Regions from separate parts of the Homo sapiens genome. Here region 2 is linked to region 1. Evidence: fine-mapped expression QTL. Tissue or cell type: whole blood. Region 1 holds a variant in brackets; the other region holds the start of a gene. All regions are shown on one strand. Distances are from middle to middle.

Region 1 (5,474 bases):
ATGGTCTTAGGTCCTCCCACTGCCTTCCCTCCCTCCCTGCTCCCATCCCCAACCTGCAGCCCGGCAGCTCTGAAGGGAGGCAGAACAAAGAGGGTGGCTTTCATCAGACACAGGCTTTGTGCTCATCCCAAAGCCTCCAGGAGCCTTTGCTTCGCTGATGAAGACAAGCAGGCTATCCAACTGTGGACTCTTTTCATCCCTCGAAATTCAACAAACTTCCATCTTTCCTTTATGTGCTAGTTTTATTTTATTTTTTTTTAGTCCCTGTCACTTGCCACTTAAAAGAGGAAAAAAAAAAAAGTAAAGAAAAAGACCAAAACCAGTCCTGTAGTTAGCGAGTGAAGGGTCTTGCATGGTACTGAATGATTTAATTCTGGGGTGCACATGTTTTGTTTTCCCTCTCTTTACATATTTTTGCCTTGGGGCATTTTGGGTGGGGAAGGGAGGGGAGTCACAGATGGCAAAATTGATACGAGAGTTTTCTCAGGTTCAGGCAATTTAGTTCATTATTTTATAAATGGCCTCAAAAGTCCAGTGGGAAGGGGTTAGGGAATGTGTTAAGGAATGGACACAAAAGCCAGGTGTGGTGGCGCACACCTGTAATCCCAGCACTTTGGGAGGCTGAGGCGAGCAGATTGCTTGAGCCTAGAAGTTTGAGACCAGCCTGGGCAACAAAGAGAGACCCTGTCTCTATTTATTTTAAAATATAAAGTTTAAAAAAAAAAAAAAGAATGGACAGAGAGCTCGGCAGCCATCATCTTCCTTCCTGCCACCCCACACAGATCTCACTGCATACCTGAGGTTAAATCTCCAATTATCTGGGCAATGCCCCTTCCCCTTTACTTTTTTTTTTTCCTTCCTTCCTTCCCTTCCTTCCCTCCCTCCCTCCCTCCCTTCCTTCCTTCCTTCCTTCCTTCCTCTTAGAAAAAAAAGATGGGATTGGCTGGGTGTGGTGGCTCATGCCTGTAATTCCAGCATTTTGGGGTGGATCACCTGAAGTCAGGAGTTCGAGACCGGCCTGGCCAACGTGGTGAAACCCCGTCTTTACTAAAAAATACAAAATAGCCAGGCATGGTGGTGCATGCCTGTAGTCCCAGCTACTCAGGAGGCTGAGGCTCGAGAATAGCTTGAACCTGGGAGGTGGAGGTTACAGTGAGCTAAGATTGTGCCACTGCACTCCAGCCTGGGCAACAGAGTGAGACTCTCTTTCAAAAAAAAAAAAAAAAAAAGAGAGATGGGGTCTTGCTATATTGCCCAGGCTGGTCTTGAACTCCTGACCTAAGTGATCCTCCTGCTTCAGCCTCCCAAAGTGCTGGGATTACAGGCATGAGCCACCTCACCTGGCCACCTTTACCTTTTAAAGATAGGTGAGCAGTTCTTATAACGACCAGAAATAGGGGGAATCCACATCATTATGATTTTTTTTTTTTTTAGCGCAGTGATGCTGCTTGTTCCAAAACTTGGTGGAAAATACTATAGCATTATCTCAGTTGAGGAAAACAAATATTAAATCTTAACTTACAAACCAAGAGTAGGATTTTCCCACCCTCGGGTGGCATATAAGGCGCATCAGCAGGACTTCCTTGATGACATGCCAGTGTCTGTGGTTGCTCCATTCCAGGGCCATGGTCAACCTATACCTCCCTGAAATACTGGGCCTTGTCCGCTTCCCAGTTTGGGTTTCAGTGTCTGTAGCCTTGGGCCGTGCTTTTAAAGGGTAGGAGGCCGAGCCCCTAGGGAGGGGCTGGGGCTGCCCTGAGTGTAGTTTTTTCTTTTCTTTTTTTTTTCCCTGCCACCTTTCTTCCCTCCTGAGAACTGAGCATGGTTCTGCAAGCAGGCTTCCTAGTAGCCTAATAGTAGGATATGAGCCCTCTGTCCCCCCAGCATCCCAGGAGGTCTTTAAAACAGAGAAGGTGGGCTCTGCCAAAGGTGATAGCACTCCGCAACTTTCACGGTCACCTCCTTCCTCATCTCTGCAGTTCACAGAATTGAGTGGCTCTTGAGTGCAGGCTTGCCCACACACTGCGACTCCCCTCTGCAGGCAGCACAGGCATGGGTATGGAATGGGGGCCATGAAGCCACAGCTCCTTCTCTTTCTTCCCACTTGGGTGGAAGTGGCTCAGCTCAGAATGCCTATTGAGTGTTGTCTCGGTGTGGGGAGGTGGGCAGGGAGGAGGTGAGCCCATTCCCAGGGAATAGAGGCTGGGGGGCCTTGGCCCAAGCCAGCCCTGCTCTGAGACTTCTTACCCTTCCAGAGAAATGGGTTCCGCCTGTTGTCTCCTGCAAGCTGATCGGGCTTCTCATGTGCTTATCCAAGGCCACCACCTTTCAGGGCCAGCTCCAGGCCCCTGCCTCCATGAAGTCCTCTCTGACTGCTCTTCCCTGTGGAGCCGGGCAGCAGTATTGTGTGTAGGATTTGAGAGCACAGGCGCTGGGGTAGACTGCCTGGGTTTGTATCCTGTTTGTGCTCTTAGTAGCCCTAGCACGACCTTCAGCAAATTAATTTTTCTAACTCTTAGTTTCTTCCTCTGTGAAATGGGACTAATAATGACAACCTTTGGGTTGTTATGGAAATTAATGGAGGCAATACATGCAAAGTGCTTAGCACAGTCCCAGTACTTAGTAGTGCTTAGTACCTATTAGCTGCTATTATTTTTCTTGAGAGTGCCATATACAGTGCAGCAGTTTGCTTGTAGATTGTGTGACTTGTCACTCTAGTACAGCTTTCCATGTAGGTAATTGAGGAATTGAACAGCAGAGTTGGAAGGGCCCTCTGCAGGTCTGGACTGACCATAATAACACCAGCTAACACTTAGAGTACCGGCTATGCGAGGTACTGTTTCAGTCACTTTTCACAAACAGGCAGAATATCCCTTATCTGAAATCCTTGGAACCAGAAGTGTTTTTGGGGTTTGGATTTCTCTAGATTCTGGAATATTTGCATATACATAATGAGATATCTTGGGGATAGGACCCAAGTCTAGATGTGAAACGTATTCTCATTTCATATACACCTTATATACACATAGCCTGAAGATAATTTTGTTTTTCCTTTGAGGAAGCAGAATAAACTGTATCCTGCGCCTGC[A/G]TTTTGACTGGCCCATCACATGAGGTCAGGTGTGGAATTTTCTGCTGTGGTGTCATGTTGGTGCTCAAAAAGTTTCAGATTTTGGAGATTTTTGGATTAGGGATACTCAACCTGCATTAAATCAGTTTATCCTCAAACAGCTCTAAGAGATAAGCACTTCTATCATCCCATTTTACTGATAAGTATGTGGAAGCACAGAGAGGCAGAGTGACTTACCTAACAGCACACAGCTCATAAGGGGCTGGGCTGGGAGTTAACTCCAAGCAGTTTGGCCCCAGCTGTGCTGCAATCATTATTGTTTGGCTCAGAGAGAAGGGCCTTCTTCTGAAGGCTACTCACAGCAGATGAGTAACCTCCAGGCTCTTGAGCCCCTGGCTTGCCATTCTTTCTCCCGAACCTGGCCCAGTGCCATGCTAGGCGGGGGGCACGTGTTGGAAACCTGGCTGACACGTGTGAGTCCGGGAGCGATTGGGCACCTTCGGTCATTCTGCTGTGGTTCGTCAGGCTGTGGTTCCTCAGTGTGAGCTGGAGGAGGGCGGCAGGATGTGGCAGGTGCCCTGAAAGTGACTGTCCTCCTGGGGCCCAGGCAGCACTTCCTGCTCTGTCTTCAGGGACCCCAGAGCTCCAGAGAGTAGCAGCTTGGTGTCTCCCTCTCCTTTCCCTGGGGATTGAGGTAGGGGGTGCTGGCCTCCCTGTGACCGTGAGCCGTCAGCTCTCTGCCTTTCTGCCTGGGCCCTTCTGGAGGACAGGGAGAACTCTGTGTGCTGGTTCAAGGCTGGAACAAGTTCCTTCAGCCACTGTGAGCTTCACGAAGAGGAAGCGTGAGTCACCAGGGCCTTTACAAGCTCCAGGTGAATGGAAGGGGTGTGTTGGGGGCGTGCTTCCATCTCTCTTGGGCCTCATGGTCTATGGGAGGGGGCCTGGGAGGGCTGGGGCATTCCATTATTGTTCGGGTGGTTTTTCCTGGAATTTCTTTTGAAGTGGTCTTCGTGACCCAGTGGCACTGAGTCACGGGGTAAACAGAATTATCAGGGGCTGGGCTCTTGGAAAGGACACAGACAGTGCCCGTGGGCCAGTCCCAGAGGGTCACCAGGCTGGCTTCCTCCCAGTGGCTTCCTTCCACCTCTCCCAGGGTTTTGGCTGCAGCTTCCATGTGCATCCCACCTGTGGACTCCAGCTCTGGGCCAGTGTGTAGAGCATGTGCCCTGGGGGCTTGTGAGAAATGCATTCTGAAACCCCACCCTCATCTGCTGAATAAGAGTTTACGTTGCCCAGGTAGTTCCTTTGATAGTAAAGAATCTCCTTATATCACGCTCTGGCCCACATGTCCACGTCTAAACTTGGCCTCAAGCTCCCCTTTTCTGGAAATGTTTCCACATCATCCAACTTTCTCTGGATCTCATCAGCACCTCTGCATGGTACTTGGTAGCTTGCACAAGTTTGTGGTTGGTGCCCTCCTCTCGTGTGTGTGTGTGTGTGTGTGCACACACACACACACACATCAGGAGGCTGATCCTACAGTCCCCCTTAGCCCTGGGCACTCTGTGAGGTAGAGAATGTCCCTCCACACTGTTTCTCCTTCCACAGCAGCCCATCCTAGGTTTCAGGGCAGGTTGGGTGGAGGTGCCTTCAGGAGAACCTGGGGAAATTGTCTCCTCCTGGATTGGGCCATGGCAGAAGATGAGGAGCACCAAATTTGACTCCAAATTTGATGGCGAAACCCCAGAGGTAGATGACGCCGACACCTGCCCCTCCGCCCCATGGAAGCAACCGGCCTTGAAAGGACACCGTGTGACTTTGGGGGACAGTGGCTTCTTTTGCCTTTTCCTGACTGTCCTGACCACACAGGCCTTTAGGACAACAATAACCGCAGAGACAAAGCATGACCGAGACAATGTCGTCTTTGGGCCTTTTTTCCCCCTTAATGACGTCCAAGGCTCTGGGAACATTGTAAAAACTGGGTCCTGTCCAATTTTAACCACTCCCCCCACCAGCTCCTAGGAGCCCTGCCAGCTCCCTGGGTTGGGGGTGGGAGTGATGCCCAGAGATGCACACAAAGATGTCACGCTGCCCTGGTTAGGCCCCAGAGGCCAGTCAGGACTGCAGGGACAGGGAAGAGGAACAGAACGTGTCGCTTGGCCTGTGGACTCCCCCAGCCAGGGAGGTAGGTGGGCGGAGAGAGGGAAGGGCATCTGCCAAGCTTAATTAACAGTGGAAACTTGCCACAGGGGAGGAGAGAGACGATTTGAAGAGGAGGGGCAGTTTACTGGAAGAAGGGGCACTGCTGATGCCAAGAGTAAGAAAGAGGGGAGCGTTCCAGCAGAGGCATCTGGAGCGCAGGCTGCCAGTGTCGTAAGCTGGGATGGGTTGAGCATAGAGATTTCTG
Region 2 (5,474 bases), 52 kb before region 1:
CAATTCGACCCACTACAAGGGTGTGCCGCAGAAGGTATAAAATGCTGCAGAAGTACAAGGTCACACCAAGGTCACTGGCTAAAGGAATCCTAAAATTGGTCCGGGTGGTAACTAACATCTGTAATTCCAGAACTTTGGGAGACCGAGGCGGGAGGATAACTTGAGCCCAGGAGTTCAAGACCAGCCTGGGCAATGTGGCAAGACCCTGTGTCTACAAAATATTTAAAAAATTAGCCAGGTGTGGTGGCAAGCACCTATGATCCCAGCTACTCCTCGGGAGGCTGAGGCAGGATAGTTGCTTGAGCCCAAGAAATTGAGGCTGCAGTGAACTGTGTTTGCCCCACTGCAATCCAGCCTGGGCGACAGAGTGAGACTCTGTCTCAAAAAATAAGTTTTTTTTTCTTTTTTTTGAGACAGAGTCTTGCTCGGTCACCCAGCCTGGAGTGCAGTGGTGCAATTTCAGCTCACTGCAACCTCCACCTCCTGGGTTCAAGCAATTCTCATGCCTCAGCCTCCTGAACAGCTGGGATTACAGGCTTGCACCATCATGCCTGGCTAAATTTTTGTATTTTTGTTAGAGACGGGGTTTTACCACGTTGGCCAGGCTGGTCTCCAACTCCTGAGCTCAGGCAATCCGCCTACCTCAGCCTCCCAAAGTGCTGGGATTACAGGCGTGAGCCACTTTGCCTGGCCAAAAAATATGCTTCTAACCATAAGCCAGATTCGTCTCCAACTTTTCCTCTTTTCCCCTTCCTCCACTTTCACCTTCCTTCCTCCAACTAGCTTTCTAGTTAATCCAGCTAAGAACACAGGTGCCGGATGAAAGGTGCCTGAAAGGTGACTGCCTTGCAGATGATTTAAGCTCTGGGGTTGCCCTAAGGGAAGTGGCGGCCAGAAAGAACTATATCTCAGGAGCAGGACTGGGAGGGAAGAGCCAGGGAGCCTGTCTGGAACCCTGATACTGTGCAATGGCCAGCCTTCCACTCCTCTAAAACCTTGCTTAGCCATAGAGGGTCAGACTACGGGAGCAGGCAGGTATCTTTAAATAGTTCATTTCTGCCATATTGGGGTCCATCTGGAGGTCTTAAAGAACTTGTAACTCTATGGACCCCATTCCAGAAAAATATATAAATGTTCACAAAAAAGTTGAGATCATGTCAAAAGCTTCATTGACATCCTTGAGCTTATTCATGAAGCCAAGGCTAAGAACCCCTGATCTAATATTCTCCCTCCACCATTTTTCCTAAGGACAAAACAGATCAGCAAGGATTATTGGTTTGTTCCACCTTGTGCAGCTGCTTAGAGGGGAGTCCAAGTCCAAAGTGCAAATTCTGATACTCTTGTTCTTTCTACCATATAGTGAGTTCGTTTCCATAAATAAAAACGACTTCTCCCCTTGAAGAAGCAGACTAAGAAGACACTGCTTTTTGAGGGAAGGGAGGAGGCATGTGGCTGGGACTGGCAGTGTGGGTAGACAAAGTGCCTCTCACCCCCAGCGAGATCCACTCATTCCAACGTAGATATTTGAAATGGACCTGGGTTCCCACTCTACAGAGGAGCACTGCGGGATCACTGAGCGCAGTCAGAGTTCCAGCTTTGAAGGACCTTGTCCTGCAGTCAGGGAGGTAAGCAGTATGTGTCCACAAACGGCTGTCGTGGAAGAGAAGACATTCTTGGGCTTTAAGGGGGACTGCAGATCCTTTCCAAGTCATCAAAGGAAGCAAGGTAGTCCGCTGATTTGTCTCCCTCTGAGACATTTAGGGGGAGAGCGCCTCACTTGCCAGAAAGACCAAGGACTGCACCGCAGACACCCACCTTTCTTTTCCTCATCCGGCGACACATCCTTCCTCCTGCCAACATCCTAACTCCTTTACACTCTGGGGACCAGCTCTTCTCAAATGCTGGCGCGGGGAACAGCCTATTTACCGCAGTTGAGGCGATTTTACTGGGAAATTCTCTTAGGAGCTCCTTGGAGAGGGAAAGCCTCACGGATTCGGCGGAGGTCTTAATCTGGAGATGTCCAAATTTAGGGGAAACCCTCCCCACCATTTGTCTCCAGGCTGTATTTTGGAGTTCTCAGATTAGGACCCTCTGGACTGGGGGCAAGATTTGTATGAGGGGGTCTCCAGCAGCTTGTGGGCTGGCCGCGTGCCAGGCCTGACTCCGTGTCCCCCACCCCCGGCTGCGCCTGGGCCTCGGGGGACCGGGAACCAGCCGGCGCCGCGTCCCCGCCTAGCGGGCGGGCCGGGGACCCCTCCCCTCCGCCCGTCCCCTCCTCCCCTGCTGCCGCCTCCCGGAGGGACGGCCTGGGGAGGGGAGAGAGGAGGGACGGGCCGGCGGCGGCGGGGCTGTGGCCACGGGGGAGCGGGTGGCGGCCGCGGGGCCCCGGTGAGCCGGGCCGGGGTGCACGGGGGCCGAGGCGGCCTCCGAGCCGGGCCGGAGCTGTCGGGAGCCTGGGAAACACGGCCCAGGCGACTTTCTCCCGGGAGTTGTAGTCTTGCTCTGGGGGCGGCGCGCGGCCCGGCTTTCGGGGCGAGTTTTCTCGCGGGGCGGGCGGCGCGCGCGGAGGCTGAGGGGGAGGGGGAGCATGCCCGGCTGGAGCCCGGCCTCGGGGCGCGCCCCGGCCGCCGTCCCCACCTCCGCCTCCTCCTTCTCCTCCTCCGTCTCCTCCTCCTCCTCTTCCAGTCCCGCCGCCGCGGCAGCCAACATGGCTGCGCTCCGGAGCCCGGGAGGCGGCCGCTGCTGAGCGCCGCCCGCCGCCCCGGGCCCCCAGCCCGCCCAGGCCCCGGCCCATGGCTCCCGCCGCCTCACGGCTCCCGGCGCCCTAGGGCTGCTGCCGAGGTGCTCGCCTGCCCGCCCGCCGGCCTCGGGGGGCCCGGGAGGCGTCCGGCGGGGCGGGGCGGCGCGGCCCGCCACCATGGAGCCCCAGCGCCGGGAGCTGCTCGCCCAGTGTCAGCAGAGCCTGGCCCAGGCCATGACGGAGGTGGAAGCCGTGCTCGGGCTGCTCGAGGCCGCGGGAGCGCTCAGTCCCGGCGAGCGGCGGCAGCTGGACGAGGAGGCGGGAGGCGCCAAGGCGGAGCTGCTGCTCAAGCTGCTCTTGGCCAAGGAGCGGGACCACTTCCAGGACCTGCGGGCGGCGCTGGAGAAGACGCAGCCTCACCTGCTGCCCATTCTCTACCTGAACGGCGTCGTCGGGCCGCCGCAGCCCGCCGAAGGCGCGGGTGAGTGGCAGACCCTTGGCCCCCGCCTCTGGGACGCGCCCTCCGCTTCTCCCTCCTGCTGGCCGAGGGTACCTCGCCGGGGCCGCCGCTCCACCTGGCGATGGCCTCGGTGGACTCGCTCCTCTGGCCCAGTTGGGGAGGCGGCGGTGCGCGGATCCCGAAGTCCCGCCGCCTCCCCCAGTCCCGCCGTTCGCTGTGAACAATGCCCCCCGCTGAAGGCCTTCACTCTCAGGTGCCTCGACGACAGGGTCCCCGGGGGCCACCAGGTCCAGTAGCGGGTAGGGGGTACCTCGGAGGATGTCCATCAGTCCCTTTTCTGAGGCTCCTCACCGTCCGCTAGCTTTGGCACCCTGTGCTAGCCTTTAACCAAGGGTACCGTCCAGAAGAATGGGACTTGGGCCAGGACCCCTACTCTTAAGTTTTGGTCGCTGCCATCCTGTGCCGGGGCCACAACTGCTTTTTCATTTTCTGGCTGTCCCAGCTCCTTTTTCTCTGCTCAGAGCCCAGTCTCTCCCAGACTGGTGGCTGATTGTGCACAACGCCTGCCTGGGTTTCTTTGGAAACTGGGCCCGGAAAAGTTGGGGAAGTTGCATTGCACCATGGGAAAATCCTAGTAGTGGCTGCTGGGGCTAAGTTCTCTCCCTGAGAGCACAGAGCTGCTTAACGAGGAAGGCTGGTGACTGGTTCCCTTGAGGGTGCCTTTTGGAACCCCTGTGTCTTTGGTCTTGGGGATGACTGATTTGTAAGTGTGTGTCTGGGTGCAGGAACGGATACTGGCGGGAGTTTCTGACAAGTGGTAGGCTTGTCCTGGCCTGGCCGTGGAGTGTGGAAGCCAGCCTTTTTAGACAAGGCAGCTGGAGGAAGAAGACATGGCACTGAGGGAGGAGGAGAACTAGCATTTATTGGGCATCTACTGTTGTGGCAGGCGCTCTGCTTTATCACGTTCAGTTGTCGTTGCCACTATGTGAGCTTTCTGTTATTCTTTGCCAGAGAGAAAACTCTGGCTTGGAGTGGTTAAAATGCTCAGAAAGTATTGGGCACCAGGAATTTTGAATTATAACCTATTGTTTGATTTAACTTGTTCAGAGCCAGGAAACAAAGTGCCATCTTTCTAGGTCTTGTCCCTGTTTTAACAGTGAATCGATAGGTACAGTAAAAATAAATAAGGATATATGTATAAAAGAAAAACAAGTGAACCGAGAGGGCTGAGAAACTGCCCTTAGCAACCTGAAGGTCAAAGGCTGATGGGACCCATTTATTTGGCTGTTAAAAGCCCCACTTATTAAGGGAATGATTTTATAAGGCATTCCTGGTAACAGCTCTCTTACGTTGGCCATCTTAACCTCAATTTTTGTAGCTGCAGGAAACTGACAGAGAGACTAAATTGCTGGCCACACAGCAGGTCATTTCATTGGTGGCCCTCCCGTCTCCACTTTGAGCTTCTGACTTGCATCTCTGTCCCTCAAACCTGCATTCTTTCCCCCCAGTTGTGGTCATGTCAGAGTTACTGGGCAAACCTAGTCCTTTCCTGGGATAGTGCTTTGGGAGATGCTAGGAAGGGACTGTCAGATGTGGCCATGAGGATAAGGACAGAGGGGATCTCAACAAAGTAATTTTTTTCTTTTTAATTGTATCTATGTATCTATCTAATCTATCTCTGAATGAAGAAGTTAAGATCTGTTTCTGAAAGTCTTTCGTAAAGCACAGAACTTAGTACAGACTGGAAGTCTGCGTTGGGAAGCATGTGAATCAACGCTCGCCTTAATCTCTGAAAATTGATTGATGGATCAATTGCCATTAATTAGGTCTCACCCTTTCCGTGTCTGGTGGAGAATGTGGGGCCTCATGGGGCTGAAGTTCTAGGAGCTAGTCTTGACCTCTAAGGAAGGCAGAGATTAGGGTTTGGATTTTATCCCCTAGGGCATTGATTTCAGACCCCAGTTTTACCACAATGCAGAGTTATGTGACTTTGGAGAGGGTCATGAAATCCTTAGAAAAATACTTTTCAAGGAGAAGTTAAGTTCATTTTACTTAATGCATTAGAAAAACGCTGGTTGGGTGTGGTGGCTCATGCCTGTAATCCCAGCACTTTGGGAGGCCGAGGCGGGCAGATCTCTTAAGGCCAGGAGTTCGAGACCAGCCTGGCCAACATGGTGAAACCCCGTCTCTAATAAAAATACAAAAATTAACTGGGCGTGGTTGTGGGCGCCTGTAGTCCCAGCTACTTGGGAGGCTGAGGCAGGAGAATCACTT

What was found. PIP is the estimated chance that this variant, and not a neighbour inherited with it, causes the effect.
Region 2: DLG5 starts here. The variant in region 1 is fine-mapped to the expression of DLG5 in whole blood (INTERVAL, PIP above 0.99).

What each region holds. Positions count from the first base shown.
Region 1 is chr10:77,872,129-77,877,602 of GRCh38, reverse strand. The region is part of intron 1 of DLG5 (discs large MAGUK scaffold protein 5); the gene reads left to right. Among named protein-coding and RNA genes, the nearest start is that of DLG5, 52 kb to the left of the region's middle. RefSeq lists a silencer at 1-172. The variant A/G (reference allele first, on the strand shown) is at 3,089.
Region 2 is chr10:77,923,964-77,929,437 of GRCh38, reverse strand. It overlaps DLG5 (discs large MAGUK scaffold protein 5), which reads left to right and starts at 2,683. Exons shown (of 32, transcript NM_004747.4): 1 at 2,683-3,221. The coding sequence starts at 2,918. DLG5-AS1 (DLG5 antisense RNA 1) reads right to left here and starts at 2,626. Exons shown (of 1, transcript NR_024585.1): 1 at 1-2,626. RefSeq lists a silencer at 814-990.